Homo sapiens: one gene and its partners. The protein of the gene in region 3 interacts with the protein of the main gene of each other region in a biochemical or structural test. Each region holds a gene or a part of one and is shown on either strand. Other genes may lie near its edges.

The links. The genes of interacting proteins can lie anywhere in the genome.
Region 1: the proteins of CTTN (region 3) and ACTR3 form a complex in vitro, tested with the Homo sapiens proteins (3 studies listed by BioGRID).
Region 2: the proteins of CTTN (region 3) and HDAC6 form a complex in vitro, tested with the Homo sapiens proteins (3 studies listed by BioGRID and IntAct, with this or other methods).

What each region holds. Positions count from the first base shown.
Region 1 is NC_000002.12:113,949,064-113,956,088, forward strand, and holds part of ACTR3 (actin-related protein 3), read left to right. Parts: intron 1-2,415; coding exon 2,416-2,508; intron 2,509-2,656; coding exon 2,657-2,782; intron 2,783-6,559; coding exon 6,560-6,643; intron 6,644-7,025. UniProt on the Homo sapiens protein: ATP-binding component of the Arp2/3 complex, a multiprotein complex that mediates actin polymerization upon stimulation by nucleation-promoting factor (NPF).
Region 2 is NC_000023.11:48,812,042-48,819,066, forward strand, and holds part of HDAC6 (protein deacetylase HDAC6), read left to right. Parts: intron 1-2,398; coding exon 2,399-2,525; intron 2,526-2,633; coding exon 2,634-2,699; exon of another isoform or gene 2,700-2,792; coding exon 2,793-2,852; intron 2,853-2,920; coding exon 2,921-3,010; intron 3,011-3,342; coding exon 3,343-3,449; intron 3,450-3,533; coding exon 3,534-3,601; intron 3,602-3,842; coding exon 3,843-4,011; intron 4,012-4,099; coding exon 4,100-4,228; intron 4,229-4,423; coding exon 4,424-4,592; intron 4,593-5,284; coding exon 5,285-5,418; intron 5,419-5,999; coding exon 6,000-6,068; intron 6,069-6,178; coding exon 6,179-6,371; intron 6,372-7,025.
Region 3 is NC_000011.10:70,422,513-70,429,537, forward strand, and holds part of CTTN (src substrate cortactin), read left to right. Parts: coding exon of another isoform or gene 1-40; exon of another isoform or gene 41-427; coding exon 428-483; intron 484-2,819; coding exon 2,820-2,889; intron 2,890-3,184; coding exon of another isoform or gene 3,185-3,267; exon of another isoform or gene 3,268-3,575; intron 3,576-6,538; coding exon 6,539-6,687; intron 6,688-7,025.

The DNA.
Region 1 (7,025 bases), on a different chromosome or scaffold from region 3:
TAATTTAGAACTAATCTTAAAAACTGGAAAAAGGCAGGGCGTGGTGGCTCACACCTATAATCCCAGCACTTTGGGAGGCTGAGGCAGGCGGATCACCTGAGGTCAGGAGTTCGAGATCAGCCTGGCCAACATGGTGAAACCCCGTCTCTACTAAAAACACAAAAATTAGCCGGGCGTGGTGGCGGACGCTTGTAATCCCAGCTACTCGGGAGGCTGAGGTAGGAGAATTGCTTGAACCCAGGAGGCAGAGGTTGCAGTGAGCCAAGATTGCGCCACTGCACTCCAGCCTGGGTGTCAGATCGAGACTCGGTCTCAAAAAAAAAAAAAAAAGAAAAAAAAAAAGAAAAAATTGACACATGCCTAATAATTATCAATACAGTTATAGACTCAGTTTAATAAATAAAGGAATAATGTCTCTCAACTAGGACAACCTAATGATAAAAATGAATGGCTGAGGAGATATACAATACTTGTTTGTTTTTCACTAATTAGAGCTAGATTTTGATTATTTATTTAGAGACAGAGTCTCTCTCTGTCACCCAGGCTGGAGTGCAGTGGTGTGATCATAACTCAGTGTAACCTCGAATTCCTAGGGTCAAGCAATCCTTTTTCCTCAGCCCTCTCAAGTAGCTGGAACTACAGGTGTGTGCCACCATGCCTAGCTAGTTTTTAAATTTTTTGTAGAGACAGGGTCTCGCTATGTTGCCCAGGCTGGTGTCAAACTCTGGGTCTCAAGCAATGGTCCTGCCTTGGCCTCCCAAAGCACTGGGATTATAGGTGTGAGTCACCATGCCCAGCTTCAAGTTGTTTTTTGTTTTTGTTTAAGTTAGTTTTTTAAAAAGTATGTTTTTCTTGAGTGCCAGCTGTTTGGAAATAGTAAGTTTATTTTGACTATGGTATATCATCGTTTGAATATATAGCTGATGTTTGTTATTCAAAGTAGATGTGCCAAAAAGTTCTTGAGAGCGCTGAATTAGTGAACACTGAGCTAGCTATTGCTCCTAGGGGAAATACAGTATTAGGTTTCTTTGAGCCTCTGGTAACATTTTTGTTATCCCATTAACATATACCCTTGTTTCATGTGTGTTTCTTTTTAAAGGCACTGCATTTAGTATATCATTTTAGTATATTCATTTATATTCAATAGCACTAGAACACATGTCTGAACAAAGCTATCTAACTTGCTTTTTCTCTGTAAGACACATCACAGCCTCCTTGTGTTTACTAGCCAGCACTTGAGCAGTATGCTTGGGGGCCATTTTAAATAATGAAATCACTAACAAAAATATGAAAACCGTGCCACTAAATAGAACTGTGAAAAGGACACTTGTTTATAGTATGAGAGCTGAAACTAGATAGCAGAGTATCATCTTGTTCAACCTCAATGGGGAATGTGCACATCAGTGGACTCAAATTTTTGTTGCTCTACACGTGCATGTCCATGAATAACCATATTTTGATTTGGGGAGTAACAAATATGTTTTAGCGATTAGGTAAATTCACAAATATGGAATCATGAATAATGAGATTAGACTACATTTATTTATTTCATCCCCTATTGATGGACTTAACGGGTTTTTCCTCTTAGAAACAAGGCTATAGTAAATATGCATATGTAATAGCATACATGTTTGGGGAGTTTCTTCAGAGTTTGTTGTAAGAAGTGGAGTTACTGGTATGTGCATTTAAAATTTTATTAGCTATTTGTATTAGTCCGTTTTCATACTGCTAATAAAGACATACCTGAGACTGGGCAATTTATAAAAGAAAGAGGTTTAATTGGACTTATGGTTCCACGTGGCTGGGGAAGCCTCACAATCATGGCAGAAGGCAAGGAGGAGCAAGTCCTGTCTTACATGATGGCAGCAGGCAAAGAGAGAATGAGGAAGACGCAAAAGCAGAAATCCCTGATAAAACCATCAGACCTTGTGCAACTTATTCACTCCATGAGAACAGTATGGGGGAAACCACCCTCATGATTCAATTCTCTCTCACCAGGTCCCTCCCACAACACGTGGAAATTATGGGAGTACAATTCAAGATGAGATTTGGGTGGGGACACAGAGCCAGACCATGTCACTATGTTACTATTGCCAAATTATTCTCCATAGTGGTTACATCAGTGTATACTCTCACAGCGTTATATGAAAGTTTCCATTTACCCAGATTTTTGCCAGCTCATAGTATATGTATGACTTTACATGTTTGCTATTCTGATAGTTATAAAATGGTATATATCATCATAATTTTGAGTTTTCTCTGATTTCAGTGTCTTCAATCTGAATCTGTTAGAGACCAGTATTAGTGGTTTCTAAAAGGCCTTTTGTTTTTGAACTGAAAACTTTGTTTAACCTTTTATTGTGATATTTGTCAGTAGTGATATGATCTCTATTATATATCCAACTTATTTTTCAGTTTGCTAATCCAGACTTTACACAACCTATCTCAGAAGTTGTAGATGAAGTAATTCAGAATTGTCCTATTGATGTCAGACGTCCTCTCTACAAGGTATTTATAGCAAAATTGTTATTCAAGGTCTTACTTTAAAAAAACTTAAACACCTCTCATAAAAAGGATATAATAGCATTTCAGTACTATATATTATATCTTTAAACTTTTCTCTTTTTAAATATTATATTTATTTTCTCTCCACTAGAATATTGTCCTCTCTGGAGGTTCAACCATGTTCAGGGACTTTGGACGTCGCTTGCAAAGAGATTTGAAAAGAACTGTAGATGCCCGGCTGAAATTAAGTGAGGAATTGAGTGGTGGTAGATTGAAGGTTGGTTTTCCCAATTATTGGTGAGAAGGTTGAGGGTGCCTTCCTTGATTAGGATGAGAAATATTTGCCAGCATTCACTCTGATTTAGAAAAATAAGAGGAACCTGTCAGGTATTCTAATGGAAATGGTTAATGTTATAGATTTATGTCTGTGATATTCTGGATCATTTGATTCTTCTAGGATATTGTCTGTATTTCTGGAAAATAATTCTTAGTAATACCTGTGGAAAGACTTTTTTTTTAAATACCTCTCTCATAGATAATTAATATAGTAGATTTCTTTGCATACACCAACAATCAAATTAATTATGGATCCACAAAATGTTTTATACTATAGAAGGACAGCAAAGCTGAGTTGAGATTGATGCCATTGTTGAGTAGTCAAGCCTGCTCTCAAAAACTGACTTTAGCTCCCACATAGCAACCTCAAAGTGTGCAGTCAAATCGGTGGTTTAATAAAGTAACCTTTGTATTACATGTCCTGGACCTTTAGGCTTGAGGTTAAAAAAAATCAAAATTAATTTAAAATTCTTAGATGTCTACTTTCTATATTTAGAGATAGATTCTTCATTTTTTTCATCCTTGTTAAATATTGAAGCAGAACGTTGATTTAGAGGAATGATATGGCTTTTTTCAAAGCTGTTTGAAAAAAGGTATTTCATGTGAATAAAATACCTTCTGCTTGGAAGATTACCAAGAATGAGGACTTTATCTGAGACTTCCATAATCATTCAGAATTACTTAAAAGTAAAGCACAGCACTCTAGGGTTTGCTGATTGTTGAGAAATTGCATGATGGCTGACTGTTGTCAGTGCCTATATTTTGATTATCTTGAGTAAACCTATCCCTAGGAATGCAGTAAAAAGTATATGTTTTGGGTGGAAGGCAAAATATTGAACTCTGTCCCTATAATGTCATGACTTCACACTTCAGGAAGTCTACTCAATAGACTTTTAAAATGTTGTGTTTGCTTTTGCATCCCCTTCCCAACCAACCAAACCACCAGCCCACCCCCATTCATCCATTCATTTGCCCATCCGTCTACTCCCCTTACCCACATATCTATCTACCCTACCTCCTACCTAAAAAAGAAGTCATTGGGTTTTGCAAGTATAAATTCTCTGTACTGAGAATCCTACTAACCACATTGATTATGTGAATGAACATAGTGCATGTTCTGGTTTTTTTGTTAGAATACTTAAAAGATTGAAGTTGATTGTCCTAATGGTATGGTTATGGATGTATTAAAGTAGCTGTTTAGTTTTTAATAACTCATTACAGATATATAAGTACAAAACAATGCTGTATGTTTCTGAGTATAGTATTTTAAAAAAGTGAGATTGTTTAACATTTTTAAGCTCTTTTTACACTTGTAAATAAGAAATAAATTTACCCAGTGATCAGTACCGTATCGACATATTGAAAGAAACAGATTGGGTGTCCCTTTTTTGAATTGCTTCATACCAGAAGTGTTGCAGGTTTTGAGTTTTTCTGGATTTTGGAGTATTTGCATTATATACTGGTTCAACATCCTTAATCCAAAAATCTGAAATTCTGAGCATTTCCTTTGAACATCATGTTGGTGCTCAAAAAGTTTTTGGATCTTGGAGCATTTTGGATTTTCAGACTTGGGATGCTCATCATGTATAGGAAAAACCTTGTGTTTTGGAGGACTCTGCCTTCTTCACCTTAGTTTTACTTGCTAGTAACTTTTATAGATCTTAATAGCATGCCTTTATCTATCTATCTCTGGCTTTATTTTCCTTCAGTCTGTAATTTTTAATGGCAACCAAACAGTTTTGAAAAAAGCCATATCATTCTGTTTCTATAAATAGGTGTGTGTACACACACACACACACTAAATTGTAGATATGATGGTTCATTATCCCCAAACATTTTAGTATATTTCTAAAATCAAGAACATATTACAATTATCAAAATCATGAAATTAACCTTGATCCAGTGTTATCTAGTTATAGAACTGATTCTAATTTTACCGGTTGTTTCACTAATGTCCCTTATAACAAAAGGAAAACAAAATACCTTCTTCCCCCTTATCCAGGATCCAATCAAGGATTGCATGTTTCATTTACTTATTGTGTTGCTTCAGTCTGTTACATACTCAATGTTTTTTGTCTTTCATGAATGAATGTGACATTTTTGAAGAGTACAGCCATTTATTTTGTAGCATATCCTTCAGCTTGGGTTTGTTTAATATTTCTGCTTGAGTAGGTTCAGATTATGTACTTTTGGCAGTGATGCCACAGAATTGATATTGTATCATTTTTAGTGCATTGTATCAGTAGACACATGATAGAATTTGTCCTGTGTGTGAATTTTGAGCTTTTGGTTGAAGTTGTGTCTGCCAGGTTTTTTCACTATAAAGTTATTATGTTTTCCTTTATATTTAATAAGAATCTAATGAGGAGACACTTTCAGACTATCCTGTTTCTCTTTTAAGTTTCAGTCACTAGTTTTTAGCATCCATTGTGATTCTTCCCTAAAACAGTTATTACTGTGGTAGTTGCTAAATGGAGTTTTGCAATTTCTGTCATTCCTTCTATGTTTTTAAGACTTGTTTTACTATAAGCAAGAGTTTTCCCTTCTCCCACATTCATTTATTCTTTTAGTAATATCTATATGAACTCCTGATTTCTCATTTTGTGGTCTATATCTTTAATATCACTGTAATATCATAATATCAGTAATACCACTCATCATTAATTTTAATCCCACATTTTTTTTTTTTTCAGATTTGACCAGTGGGAGTTATTCAAATGGCTCTTAGGTTTTTTTTTTTGATGCAGCCACATCTTTTTTTTTGCCTACTTCTGTACTTCCCGGCACAGCAAGGTGTTTCAGGCTGATCTTGTACTTTCTCTTTTCTGGCCCTGGAATCAGCCCTTTTTTTCTCCTTTTCTTTCTTCAAGACACCCTTGTCTTATTCCTGTTAGTGGAGAACGTTACTAAGAAACCAAGCTTTGTGCTCATTGCTGTTGGGGTATCACTGAGTCTAGGCCTTCTCAGTGATTAGAGCTAGGGGTGTGTGTGTGTTTATACATCTATATCTAATTCTCTACATAAATTAAAACCATGAATTTTTACAGACGTCTCCAGTTATAGAAGGTTCACTCTAGTTTTCTGCCCTTCCATATTGTAATGCCCTTCTCTGACAGTGAGAAACCTGGCTCCTATTATCTATAATATGTTTATGTTTTTGCTTAATCCTGGAATATGTATATGATAGTTTCAGAATTGTTAATCCACACCACTGTGAAAAATAGACCCAAAACTAGAATTCAATATTTGCTTATATTTTATCTTCAGCCTGAAGGCTTATAAGATTCAAAATACTATGCTCACAAGTTGCTTGTGTTAGTCCCTTTCCTCACCTTAGTGTGCTTATGTTTGAAAAAAGTACAATTAGTTTAATTTGTTTTTGTTGTACTTTGTTTTGCCCCAACCTCCCCTTCTTTTAAGGTGTTATTTTTTAGTATGTAAAACACTAACATTTAGATTCTTAAAGTCAGAACTGTATAAAACATGTGCTCATTGTTATTTCCCTTCCATTTATTCTGCTCTGTTCCCTCCCTGTCTCTTCCACAGTGTTCCCAACCCCTTTCCTCTGAGACAGCCAATCTCAATTGTTTCTGGTTTGTAAGATACCACCTGAATTTAGTACAGATATTATTTTTGTATATGTACATTTAAGGTTAAATGACACAGAAGTTGTTATTTGAATTTACTATGAAGATGATCATACTATGTCTTTCTTTAGCCAAAACCTATTGATGTACAAGTCATTACACACCACATGCAGCGATATGCAGTTTGGTTTGGAGGATCAATGCTGGCTTCCACGGTGAGTGTGATGAAGCTTACTTTTATTTTATTTTATCATTATTATTTTATTTATTTTTGAGGTGGACTTTCGCTCTTGTCACCCAGGCTGGAGTGCAATGGCATGATCTTGGCTCACTGCAACCTCCACCTCCTGGGTTAAAGTGATTCTCCTGCCTCAGCCTCCCAAGTAGCTGGGACTACAGGCATGCGTCACCACACCTGGCTAATTTTGCATTTTTAGCAGAGACTGGGTTTCATCATGTTGGCTAGGTTACTCTTGAACTCCTGACCTTGGGATCTGCCCACCTTGGCCTCCCAAAGCAAAGTGTTGGGTTTACAGGTGTGAGCCACTGCTCCTGGCCTTTATTATTATTATTATTTTTTATTGAGATGAGGTCTTA
Region 2 (7,025 bases), on a different chromosome or scaffold from region 3:
CCTGAAAATTAACAATAATTATTTTTTTAATCTGCCAAGGGTCTGTCATTCAAAGAATTCTTTAATATCATTAATCATTCTTTTTGTTTGAATAAATGCATAGGAGGCTATAGCTGTGTGTTCTTTCATGGGTACACTATTGATTACACACACAGATGTGAAACACTGTGAATATATTCAGTGCATTCTTCCTTATTAACAAACGTGTGTAAACAAACAAACAAAAAGAACATGTCCATGCCCTTGGATCTCCCAGCTCCCCATCTCTCAGTCTCTGAACTCCAGCAGCAGGGAGACAAACTGGATAATCCTTAAAATACTGTTGTGAAGACAAGGAAAGCAGATGATCTAAAACTAAGTAGTTAAAAGAAACAAGTAACTTTGTTGTATTGGTGATTCAGTGAGTTGGCTCTTCAGAAGGGATTTTGTGTGCATTGACCTGGATCTGTACTGGATTTCTCCAGAAAGGAAACTTCAGCTTATCTTGGGTGCCCCCTTATCCTGCTCAGCATGAGACAGAGCACCCTGGGGCCCCTGGAATCTCAAAGTCTACTTTCTAGAAATTCATTGAAGTCTCTTATTCTCTGACATCCTTTCCACTCTCTCTTTCTGGGTTGCTGTTTGTTTACAATTTCTTTACTGTATTTTGAATGGGGTAGTAGGAGGTTGAGGAAGTAAACCTGTGCTATCAATCCACCATTTAACTTGAAGGTGGTTGAACTTATTTTGAATTTCCCTTCTGTTTTCTTTTTAAACTTAGCTTGAGTGCTAGTTCTGCTGTTTATTGACTTTGATGGCTCTCTTTTAGAGTCAGCTTTCTTCAGATCTTTTCTTTCTTCCTGTCTTCCCCAATGATATTTTTTTCTTTTCCTTTCTTTTTTTTTGAGACAGAGTCATGCTCTGTCGCCCAGGCTGGAGTGCAGTGGCCCGATCTCGGCTCACTGCAACCTCCGCCTCCTGGGTTCAAGCAATTCTCCTACCTCCACCTCCCAAGTAGCTAGGATTACAGGCACGCGCCACCACGCCCAGCAAATTTTTTGTATTTTTAGTAGAGACAGGGTTTCGCCATGTTGGCCATGCTGGTCTCGAACTTCTGGCCTCTAGTGATCCGCCCACCTTGGCCTCCCAAAGTGCTGGGATTACAGGTGTGAACCACTGCGCCCAGCCCTCTGGTGATAATTTTTATGTCCTACTGTGTTTCTCTTCCTCTAATGATTAACTTACTAAAAGTTTAGAACCAAGATTTATCTATCAATGTCAAAAATAAAACAATCATCCTCCACCTACTCAACACCAGAGCTTTTGCTTGTTTTTATTCCCCAATTCCAAGCTCTTTTCCCTCAATTTTAAGAATCTTTCTATATCACTTGCATTAAATTTCACAACTACATTATCAACCCATTAAAATGTGACTCTTAAGTTTGTCTAGATTCAATGCATACCACTATTTCTTGCATTTCCCTAAAAAAGCTGCCTTAGATCCTCTCTGGAACAAAGCAGGGGGTAAATGACCAGATAGAAGGATGGATGGATGATAGATTATTCATTTTGCTTTCCCCAGTCAGAATTAAGCCCTCCCATGGCCCCTTGCTGGGCTTTCTGTCAAAACACGTGCATCGCATCTTTTCAGTATCTGTTTTGCGTGTCGGTCATACTCACCCCTCTGAGTGCTCATTCTCTCGCCTATAAAATAGAAGAAGTAGTAGAGGTGGCCTGTAAGGCATTGGGGAGGAGGAACTGCCCTTTCACTGGCCTCATGACAGCCCCAGCCAGCACCCCCGCTCTAGTTCCACCCACAGAAGCAAGTCTCACCCCTACCCCCCAGGTCTCTCCACTTCCTGCTAGAGAATCACCCAGCTCCCCAGCCTGGCTTGAGGCTCTTTTCAGCCTTAGCTGGCTCCCCGCAGCTAAGAGCCCCATGCTCCATTTGGGCCTCCAGTGTCACAGGGTTTGACCTGCTGTTACTACTACCTTTGTCATAGGGGCAGGTAGTGGGCGGACATGATCTAGAGTACCCCACAGAGTCAGGAGCCCCCATGATCTGAGATAGACCCTAGAGCTGAGCCTGAAATTGGGTGGGCACTGAGGGGGCAGCGATGTTTGCTGAGGGAGAGGTTCTGGTGAGAGACTAAATGAATGAGCGAGTGAGGTAATGGATAAATAAAGATAAGAATGAAAAAATGGTAAGATGATTAAATTGGTGACTGAATGTAAGGGTAAATTAATGGAAGAATGGATTCATGGATTAAATAATTAATGGGGAAATTAATGAATGAGAGAATGAACGAGTGGTTGAATGGGGAAATGAGTGGTAGAGGAAACTGGCAACTGTTGGGTTGGGGGTGTCTATGGGGATTGACTTCTCCAACTCTCTTACCTCTTTTTCTTCTGCCCCCAGTGTCCTCTATTTCTCCATCCACCGCTACGAGCAGGGTAGGTTCTGGCCCCACCTGAAGGCCTCTAACTGGTCCACCACAGGTTTCGGCCAAGGCCAAGGATATACCATCAATGTGCCTTGGAACCAGGTCAGCATCTACCCACCTCTGCCCCCAAAGTGAGGCCCAGCCCCGCCCTTCTGTCAGCGGCTCGGGACAGGTGGCTGAACATCCCCCATCACACTCCTGTGTCTGCAGGTGGGGATGCGGGATGCTGACTACATTGCTGCTTTCCTGCACGTCCTGCTGCCAGTCGCCCTCGAGGTCCTGGGGATCTGGGGTGTGTTGGGAGGAGGAGTGGCCTTGAAGGTTAGGCTGTGAGGGTAGGTAGCCTCATGGAGTCTGTTCCCCCTTCAGTTCCAGCCTCAGCTGGTCCTGGTGGCTGCTGGATTTGATGCCCTGCAAGGGGACCCCAAGGTAAGGCAGGCTCCCTGGGGCGGCAGGTGGGTTGCATGGAGCCAGGCTGACCCTCCATGTCCCCCCAGGGTGAGATGGCCGCCACTCCGGCAGGGTTCGCCCAGCTAACCCACCTGCTCATGGGTCTGGCAGGAGGCAAGCTGATCCTGTCTCTGGAGGTGAGTGACTCACCTTCGTCCCTCAGCCTGTGGATCCTGGAGGGCTTAAGAACGAAGCTTTCAAGTCCAACAGGAGTTCCTGGCCCAGGAATTCACTTACTAGCTGGACAACCTTGCATAAGTCACTTCACTTCTTTGTGCCTCCGCTTTCCTTCTATAAAACGAGCATAATGTAATCACCTCATATCATTGTCCAGTGAATTCAGTGAGGCACCCTTCTAAGTTCCTTGTTGCTTGACATGTGGTATGCACTCTCTTATTATCATCATTATTATTATTCCCTGGTCATGTCTGGTCCTTTCCTGATCCCCCTTCACAACTCCTTGCCCCAGGGTGGCTACAACCTCCGCGCCCTGGCTGAAGGCGTCAGTGCTTCGCTCCACACCCTTCTGGGAGACCCTTGCCCCATGCTGGAGTCACCTGGTGCCCCCTGCCGGAGGTGAGCCCCGGTGGAGGAGGGGAAAGCGGGAGCCTCACTGCCCGCCCACATTCCTTGACATCATATTTTCTCCCTGCCCTGCAGTGCCCAGGCTTCAGTTTCCTGTGCTCTGGAAGCCCTTGAGCCCTTCTGGGAGGTTCTTGTGAGATCAAGTAGGAAGTGGGGTGTGGGCCTGGTGTGGGGTGGACGTGGGATGAGCCCTGGGGGAGACTGTCTTCAGACTTCCTCTGACTTTACTGGGCTGCCTTGGTGGGAGAGGGTCAGGCCCTCTCTCTCTCCCTGGGCCCTGGTTTCAGGCCTCCCACCCCTTTTTCTGTTTGGGTCACCTGAGTTCCAGAGTATGACGGGGATTCAGATTGAGAGGGTAGGACAAACGTGGCCTCCCCCTTTTAGCTGAGACCGTGGAGAGGGACAACATGGAGGAGGACAATGTAGAGGAGAGCGAGGAGGAAGGACCCTGGGAGCCCCCTGTGCTCCCAATCCTGACATGGCCAGTGCTACAGTCTCGCACAGGGCTGGTCTATGACCAAAATATGATGAATCACTGCAACTTGTGGGACAGGTAGGCATTTGGAGGGCTGGATGAGTAGGTGTTGGGGGTCCCTCCCCCTCAGGCACTAAGCCTCTACCTCTCGTTTCCCCACTGCTAGCCACCACCCTGAGGTACCCCAGCGCATCTTGCGGATCATGTGCCGTCTGGAGGAGCTGGGCCTTGCCGGGCGCTGCCTCACCCTGACACCGCGCCCTGCCACAGAGGCTGAGCTGCTCACCTGTCACAGGTCAGACCCCGGTGCCTGGGGTGGGTGGATTCCCAGGACTGTGGATGAGGTCTCAGGGGCTGGAACTTGGGTTTCCCCTCCTGGGGAGCTGCTGCAGGACTTGAGAGGGGCTGAAGTCCCTGTCTTAGGGGTGGGGACCAGGGAGGGGACAGACCCTCCTCACTGTCCTGCGGGTGCTCCTCTCTGTGCTTCCAGTGCTGAGTACGTGGGTCATCTCCGGGCCACAGAGAAAATGAAAACCCGGGAGCTGCACCGTGAGAGTTCCAACTTTGACTCCATCTATATCTGCCCCAGTACCTTCGCCTGTGCACAGCTTGCCACTGGCGCTGCCTGCCGCCTGGTGGAGGCTGTGCTCTCAGGAGAGGTGTGTCCTCTGTGGGCTGGGGAGAGGAGGACCTGGGGGGAATGGAAAAAGAGAGCCATCTGCTGTTTCTGGAGGCTCTGAGAGAGTCAAGCAGGGCCTGAGGAAAGGGGCCATGGGGAGGGGCACGGGAGGGGGTGGGCCTAGAGGCTGGGGGAATAATGGAAGGAACTGGAGAAAGGGAAGGGTGGCCAAGTGCAGTGGCTCACGTCTGTAATCCTAGCGCTTTGAGAAGCTGAGGTGAGCTCAGGAGGTCAAGGCTGCAGTAAGCCATGATTGCACCACTGCACTCTAGCCTGGGCAACAGAGTGAGACCCTGTGTCAAAAAAAAAAAAAGGTCCGGGCGTGATGGCTCACACCTGTAATCCCAGCACTTTGGGAGGCCGAGGTGGGCAGATCACGAGGTCAGGAGATCGAGACCATCCTGGATAACATGGTGAAACCCCGTCTCTACTAAGAAACATACAAAAAATTAGCCGGGCGTGGCAGCAAGCGCCTGTAGTCCTAGCTACTCAGGAGGCTGAGGCAGGAGAATGGCGGGAACCTGGCAGGCGGCGCTTGCAGTGAGCCGAGATGGCGCCACTGCATTCCAGCCTGGGCGACAGAGCGAGACTCCGTCTCAAAAAAAAAAAAAAAAAAGGAAGAAAGGAAGGTGAGGGCAGGCTGTCCGATCTTAGCACCCTGCTGCTTCCCAGGTTCTGAATGGTGCTGCTGTGGTGCGTCCCCCAGGACACCACGCAGAGCAGGATGCAGCTTGCGGTTTTTGCTTTTTCAACTCTGTGGCTGTGGCTGCTCGCCATGCCCAGACTATCAGTGGGCATGCCCTACGGTAAGGACTCCCTGGGGACCCCCCAAATCCTGATCCTTGTGGGGACCTGGATGCTCCCCCCAGCCCATTGTTTACTCATGCCCCATGGTCCAGCTCCCAGGACTTCCTTCCCCAGAAAGAAGTAAGGGTGCAGTCCTTACCCAGAGAAGGACCGAGGATGGAGCCTCTCAGTGCTTATTTAGATAGGACCCCCAGATCATGTTACCTGGGCACTTACAAAACAGGATCCAGGGTCCCACCCCAGCATTTCTGGCCTATAGCAGCTGCCTCGACAGAACCCAGGTCTAGGCTCCTGATGCATACTCCAGAAGACCCACGAACCAGCCCCCAGCATTAGCTGCCCAAGGCCCAGGGTCCAGTTCCCTAGCAATGACCCAGAAGAGCCCAGGGCCCAGCCCCGAGCACTTGCTCAGGCCTACCGGGCAGCCCTTGGGAACCAGGATCAGACTTTTCTCCTTAACTGATAGGACCCAGGGTCCTGCCACTCAGCACTAAATGCCCCTGCAGACCCCAGGGGTCTAGCCCAGCCCTCTTCCAGGGCGTGAGTATCGTCGGTTACTGAGGTGCTGTCTCCTCCCCAGGATCCTGATTGTGGATTGGGATGTCCACCACGGTAATGGAACTCAGCACATGTTTGAGGATGACCCCAGGTAAGGGCTGCAGTCAGGGGCCGCAGTGTGATCAGGGAGGCGGGTGAGCACCTCAGGGGTACTGGAGCCCCTAACCAGCCATGGTCCGCTTCCCACCCCCTCCCTGGCAGTGTGCTATATGTGTCCCTGCACCGCTATGATCATGGCACCTTCTTCCCCATGGGGGATGAGGGTGCCAGCAGCCAGATCGGCCGGGCTGCGGGCACAGGCTTCACCGTCAACGTGGCATGGAACGGGCCCCGCATGGGTGATGCTGACTACCTAGCTGCCTGGCATCGCCTGGTGCTTCCCATTGCCTACGAGGTACAGCTCAGGATAGATCGCAGGACGTATGTGACACGCCTGTGCAGGTGGCAGCCTGGACCTGCCTCCTTGGCATGTGTGTGTGTGACTACCATGTGGCTGATGATATGAGACAGCGCATGGGTGTTTAATGAGGCTACCAGGGCAGTTGGTGGCTGTGATCACCTTGTGTATTTGTGCACAGATGGCTGTACATGACTGCCTTCTCTGTGTGACACTGTGTGAGTGACTGTCTTGGCTGTGTGTGTGAGGGCCTTCTGACTATGCACCAATGGCCCGTGTCCTGGCTGGATCTGTGTTGTATGTGCGTGCCATCACAAGTGCTTGAGTATGTGCGTGTGCGACTCTGTGCAGGCAGGTATTTCTCACCTTTTCTCTGTGTGATGGGTGTGATACTGTATGTCACTAAATGCAACCATCTCTGTGACAGCCTGTGTGGGACCTTCTGGATGTGGAAGGCTGTGTGTGACAGCAGTCACTGTCTGGCTGTCTGCCCTGGCTGTTTGTGTGTATGTCTCTGACTGGGAGGTAGCTGCCTTCCCTCTGTGTGAGCTAGGAGGCTGGTGGCTTGTGTATGGCTGACTCTGGGAGGGAGGGAAAGGGTGTGAGCACCGCTCTGTCACCCTGGGCGCCGGTGTGCATCTTTGGATCTGC
Region 3 (7,025 bases):
AGAACAAACTGCGATTGAGCCTCTTTTTAGCGCTCAGTAGAGCAGGCGCACAGGAAGCAGATGAGAATAAGCCCGTGCTGGTGCGGAAGACTGTGCTATTGAAGTGGCGCGTTGCAAAGGCCTGTCCGTGCCCTCTTTCCTCGCTTAGCTCCTGCCTGCTGCCCGCCGCCCCTCCTGCCCCTCCTGCCCCTCAGGGAATGCTGAAGCCTCTGCCCCTGGCCTGTGCTCTGCTTCTCACTGCCTGTGTCTCACGACCATGGGTGGAAGCAAAACTTGCCTTGCAAGTGAAGCCTCGCTTGGCCATTCTCGTTTCTTCCCGCTGTGGTGCACCTTCTTGGGCTGTTTCTGGATCTGTCTGCATGCACCCACGGCCACCCCCATGCTCGCCTCCACCTCAGAGTAAGTGTTGTGTTTTGCCACGTTTCAGACTACTCCAAAGGATTCGGCGGGAAGTATGGGGTGCAGAAGGATCGGATGGATAAGGTAAATATTCCAGCCCCGGAGCTTAGTGTCTTCTGCCTGCAGGGGCTCTTGGTGGGCGTGGCTCACCGTGCTGGCCAACATCCACGCGCTGGGGTGGGGCACAAGTGATTTCCGTCGTGGTGGTGGTGGTGGTGGCGATGACTGACTCGGACAGTCTTGTGCTCCTCATGGCCGTGCTGTGGGATAGGCGCTGGCACCGGCCCACCTCCTAACTGGGGGCCCCAGGCCAGGCAGGCTCAGCACCTGGCTGCAGCCATAGGAACCCAGATGTTTAACATGAGAGGTGAGAGCCTCGAGGGCTCATGTCCATTTGAACTTAAATTCTTAATAGTAAATCAGATTGGAACCTGAGTGTGTTAGACTGCGTGTGGGGCTACCTCGCTGGCAGCCAGCGCTGCGTGTGCGGTGATGAGCCATGTCTCCCGTCTTCAGCCTCGTAGAGACGCGGGCTCCACACTGCCTGCTCCTGCGCGTGGCCTGTGGTCAGGGGTGGCAGGGTCAGTCCTTGCCTCGCAGCTGACCACACAGCACCATCCAGGGGCGTAGGCAGGCAGAGCAGGTGTTCGGGCTGGGCTCCCCAGGGAGCAGTAGCCTGGGCTCATTTCTGAGGGCAGGCGCGAGTTCACCAGGAGAGAAGGCTCAGGAGACCACGGAGGGGCGAGGTGTGGGCCTGGGTGGGACAGGAGTCACTGCAGGTTCTCAAGGAGCCTAGCTGCAGAGGGAGGGTGGGGAGCGGGGATAGAGCTGGCCCTGGAGAGCCCCACACACCACAGAGCATTCTGCATGTCGTGACATGCGTCACACACCACAGAGCATCTGACGTGCGTGGCCCCAGAAAGGTTAGCAGGCAAGGAACACTGGGGGGGTCTACTTTGAGAAGCCCCCGGCCTCAGCGTGGAGTCTGGGTTGTGGGGGTTGGCCTGGGCAGAGGGGTGTGGTCCTGAAGAGAGCTGGAGGGGCTCGGGTGGTGGAGAAGCAGGGCATGGTGTTTGGCGCCAAGGGACGCAGGGGAGGGAGCAGTCGGGTGGATGTGGGGTGGACGTGGGGCCAACTGTGGAGCCGAAGAACTGGGAGGAGCAGATGTGGGTGTCAGCGAGAGAGAGCTGGGGTAGGGCCGGGGCCGGGTCCGGGTGGCGTGCAGAGTTGGGAGGGGAGTAGGCACGCGGTCAGAGGACACTGGGCAGGGGGACCCAGTGAGGTAGCAGGGGCCTTGCAAGGCACTGGGACAGACGGAGGGAAGGAGCTCCCCTGTGGGTGAGTCAGAGGTTGTGGCTTTGAGGCCGGAACCTGAGGGACTGCCTGTGTTGTGGGTGTCTGTGGTCAGCATTGCTGGTGTTGGCGGTGACCGCTGAGCTTGTGAGCACGTGAGGAGGCAGTGTGTGGGTGTGGCCTTTCGTGTCATTGTCTTTCATCCAGGAGGGGGTGGAGCTTCTCTCTCTGTTTGCTGTGTGATGGAGGAGTCCAAGGCTTAGAGAGGGTGACGTAACTGCCCGGGTCCCCATACATTGTGGGGATAGGGCTACAACCCAGGCTGGGAGGTGAAGTTGCCCCCTCAGGGCAAGGTGATGTCTGCAGAGGGCCCAGTGGGTGATGGGACCCAGTAAGGCTGATGGCCTTGCCTTTGAACAGGTGCAAGCAGCTCAAGGGACATGGAGTAGACGCTGGAGCTGACTGATGGGAGGAGGGAGCGGGGTCCGAGGAAGGACAGGCGGGCCAGGAAGGGGGCAAGCAGGAGGTGCTGGGCAGAAAGGGGCCATGGTATGGGGGCTCTGGTGGCTTCTGAGCCTCAGGTGTTCTCATCAGAGGTAGTGAAACCCACAGTGAAACTGGGTACGGCCACTGGTCTCCATGAGCCCTGACAGTCTCCACCTGAGTCAGCACGTAAGAGTCATCGCCGTCGCTTGGTCAGACCATAGTTGAGTCCCCTGCAATGCAGAAAGGTGTGATTGCACCACTGGGTAGTGTGTAGGACGGGCCACTGGAGGCTTGCATGTGTCCCCAGCGTCTTCGCTTCCTGTAAATGCTCACACCTCTGGGTGGCGACGGAGGGTGGGGAAGGCTTGAGGCTGATCCCAGAATTGGTTTGTGGTAGAGCAGATGGAGATACATGCATTTCTTATGCTAATGCTGACCCACGATTGCCTGCAAATGTGGTTGGTAATAGTTTTCATGCCTCAGTTAGTTTGCAAAACCGAGAGGCCATGAAGAGTGCTCTGGGCTGTGTGGCTGGGCCTTTGGGAAGATCTGGGGAAGGCATTTGCATCTGGCAGGAGCTACCACAGGGCATGGAGAAAAGAGAAAAGTGCTCTCCTGACGCCCATGTCCTGTCTCTGCAGAATGCGTCAACCTTTGAGGATGTCACCCAGGTGTCCTCTGCCTACCAGAAGACAGTACCTGTCGAAGCTGGTGAGTCCCGGCTGATACCAGGAGCACCGTGTGGTTTCCCAGGAAAACACTGAGGGGAAGGACAGTTGTGAAACAGCCAGGAGCAGATGCACCACTAGTTGAAAGCGTGGTTGTTGCTGCGTATTTTTGGGAAAGAAAATGATCGTTCTGATGAAGATCTTGTTTCTCCTGCAGAGGTTTAGAGTCACCTTTTAGACGCAGCATGGTGCAGCCGTTTCAGTGGGGCCCGTTTCAAGGGGCTCTTCCCAGAGCAAAGGGGCTAAGTGCACATTCACAAGGGCCTCCACACTGCCAGTGACCAGCTTCTGGGAGCAGCTGGGGCCTGCCCAACTCCCTGAGCCGCTCGGTCGCAGCTGTGACAGGAGGAAGACATCATGACGTCGATGTGCAGGCGACAGCAGACATTCTCTCTGCTGCTCGTTCTTGGGCCCTTGACAGGGAGCTCGAAACCTGTCCTTTTCTGTGCTGGACACACGATGGAGTCAGATGTGGGCCCTGCCCCGGAGAGTCAAGTAGTTGGGGAAAATGTTATACATACATGAGAGCAAGTGCTAAATTTAACACAGGATGCAGAGAGCCACCACTGACTTCCTTCAGGGGCTATGGACCCACAGTTCTCAGAGATTGAGGGCCCAGGACGCTTTGACACTTTGACCACTCGTGAGAACCCCCAAGATGTTGATGTATTTGATGACATTGACTATATTAGAAATTAGAGGAATGTGGCCCGGCACAGTGGCTCATGCCTGTAATCCCAGCACTTTGGGAGGCCAAGACGGGCGGATCACGAGGTCAGGAGATCGAGACCATCCTGGCTAACACGATGAAACCCCGTCTCTACTAAAAATACAAAAACAAAATTAGCCAGGCATGGTGGCGGGCGCCTGTAGTCCCAGCTACTCGGGAGGCTGAGACAGGAGAATGGCGTGAACCCAGGAGGCGGAGCTTGCAGTGAGCGGAGTTTGCGCCACTGCACTCCAGCCTGGATGACAGAGCGAGACTCCGTCTCAAAAAAAAAAAAAAAAGAGAGAGAGGAATGGTTTATTTATTTATTTATTTTGAGACCGGGTCTTGCTGTGTCATCCAGGCAGGACTGCTGCCTCAGTCTCCTGGGCTCAAGCAGTCCTCTTGCCTCAGCCTCTGGAGTAGCTGGAACTATAAGCGCATGCCCCCTGCCCAGTTAAATTTTTTTTTTTTTTGAGACAGAGTATCACTTTGTCGCCCAGGCTGGAGTGCAGTGGCGCGGACTCGGCTCACTGCAAGCTCCGCCTCCCATCCCGGGTTCACGGCATTCTCCTGCCTCAAGCCTCCGGAGTAGCTGGGACTACAGGCGCCTGCCACCACGCCCGGCTAATTTTTTTGTTGTTGTTGCTATTTTTTAGTAGAGACGGGGTTTCACCGTGTTAGCCAGGATGGTCTCGATCTCCTGACCTCATGATCTGCCCGCCTCGGCCTCCCAAAGTGCTGGGATTACAGGCATGAGCCACTGTGCCCGGCCAAATTTTTTTATCTTTAGTAGAGATGAGGTCTCACTGTGTTGCCCAGGCTGGTCTTGAATTCCTGAGCTCAAGTGATCCACCTGCCTCGGCCTCTCAAAGTGCTGGGATTACAGGCATGAGCGACATTGGAAAGTTATTAATTGGTTCACTTAAAAAGAATAAACCTTGGCCGGGTGTGGTGGCTCATACCTGTAATCCCAGCACTCTGGGAGGCCGAGGTGGGTGGATCACCTGAGGTCAGGAGTTTGAGACCAGACTGGCCAACATGGTGAAACCCTGTCTCTACTAAAGATACAAAAAGTAGCTGGGCATGGTGGTCCACGCCTGTAATCCCAGCTACTCAGAAGACTGAGGTACGAGAATTGCTTGAACCTGGAGGCAGAGGTCGCAGTGAGCCTTGATTGCGCCACTGCACTCCAGCCTGGGCGACAACAGCTAAACTCCATCTCAAAAAATAAAAATAATAATATAACTGGCCATGCACAGTGGCTCATTCCTGTAATCCCAGCACTTAGTGAGAAGACCGGCATTGTTTTGTTTTGTAAATCTCTTTAATAGAAGATGGCTGCACTCTCACATCTGCCTCTGCAGTCTATCGATGTTACGTTGTTTAGGAAGAACATGTGGAATCACCTAGGTAGGCGATTGGGAAAGGGAGGAGTGTTTGTAACCTTGAGGGCAGCGTGGGTGTCCTTCTGCGACGCCGCCCAAGCGTGCCAGGCAGTGGTGGTCCTGCAGGCCGGCTCCTCTGGCCCTGTGAGGGACTCGCTACCCACTGTGCTTGGGCAGCACTGTGTGTTGGTCATTTGGAAAATGCTGGGTCTCTGAGTTGTGCTCGTCTTCCAGTTGTGGACACTTCTCATTCCACAATACCAAAAAAAATCACATTTGCTGTCATCATCTATTTCATCTGCAGAAGCTGAGTGGAAATCAGCATGTTCATGTGGCAGCCTCACATTTTTCAAAATTCTGTCTTTTACTTGAAAGCTGGAATTTTCCCGTTGGCAACAAATACTCCAGTAATTTTTCTTGACACAATAGGCTTAGTTCATTCACTTGGGAGAAAACTGTTGCCAGATACCCAGCTTTGCATAACCATAGTTGGACTGTCAGTTGTTATTTCAGGGAAAAACGCTATTCCATGAGAAAACAGTCAACTTGCAGCTCTCATGGTTCTATTCATGGTCCTTGAGACACAGACAGCCACCGCCACAGTCCCGGACACAGCAGGGAAGGCTCATGTGTCTTCCCACTTTTTTTTTTTTTTTTTTTTTTTTTTTTTTTGAGACAGAGTCTCGCTCTGTCGCGAGACTGGAGTGCAGTGGCACAATCTCGGCTCACTGCAACCCCTGCCTCCCAGGTTCAAGCGATTCTCCTGCCTCAGCCTCCCGAGTAGCTGGGATTACAGGTGCCTGCCACCAAGCCCAGCTAATTTTTCTATTTTTAGTAGAGACAGGGTTTCACCATGTTGGCCAGGATGGTCTTGATCTCTTGACCTCGTGATCCGCCCACCTTAGCCTCCCAAAGTGCTGGAATTACAGGTGTGAGCCACCATGCCCGGCCATATTCCCCACTTTTGACTTAAATTTTTATCATTTTTTCTTAATAGACACGGGGTCTCACTGTCTTTCCCAGGCTGGTCTCAAACTCCTGATCTCAGTCTTCCCGTCTCAACCTCCCAAAGTGCTGGGATTACAGGCATGAGCCACTGCCCTCTTTTCCATTTTTGTCACACACAATATAAAAAAATGTATACTCTGGTTGAGATTTACTATACTCAGTATACGTCAATTACAGTATACATCAGTACCTTAACTGCTTTATCAAGGACAGATGTCTTTAAGGGAAATTGGCTGTTTTTATTTAAAAAGGTGAGTGTGGTGGTGAAGATACCGTCTTATTTAGAGATCTTCCTGATGCCAGGCTTAGGGGGATTGCCAGTCCCACCAGGTACGCAGTGCCCTGCGGCAGGTGCCCAGTGCTGGCTCCGGACCAGTGGGCTGAGCTGGCAGCTGCAAGAACCTTTCCCTCCTTGGGGGTTAGGGGGATGACCGGTTCCTGGGGAGGTCACTCTGTGTGGGTGGGGCTGTTGTCCAGGAGCAGTGTTTTTGCTGTGCTCAAGGCACACGTCCTCCCTCCTTCCTCTATAGTGACCAGCAAAACAAGTAACATCAGAGCTAACTTTGAAAACCTCGCTAAGGAGAAAGAGCAGGAGGACAGGCGGAAGGCGGAGGCGGAGAGAGCCCAGCGGATGGCCAAGGAGCGGCAGGAGCAGGAAGAGGCCAGGAGGAAGCTGGAGGTGAGTGGCAAGGAGTGGGCCGCAGCGCACCCTCCCTGGGACCTGTGCCGAGGGGATTGGGAGCTCTGGGGCCTGGGCGGGGCTTATTCTCTCCTGGCCAGGTTTTCCTTGGAAGGCATGTTTAACTCTCCTTTAAGGCTCTCCATTAAGGCACTTGTCACTTGCAGCCACACATAGGCTGAGTCTCTGGCCACAATGCTCCAGGCAGCCGGCTAGCGCTATCCTGGTCTTGCCGGTCCAGCCCCAGGACCCGCCAACCTGCCCTGCCCTCTGTCCCTGAGCTGACGGCAGAGTCTTGTCGGCTTCCACCTCCACGGGGCTCCTGTCCAAATGTCAGC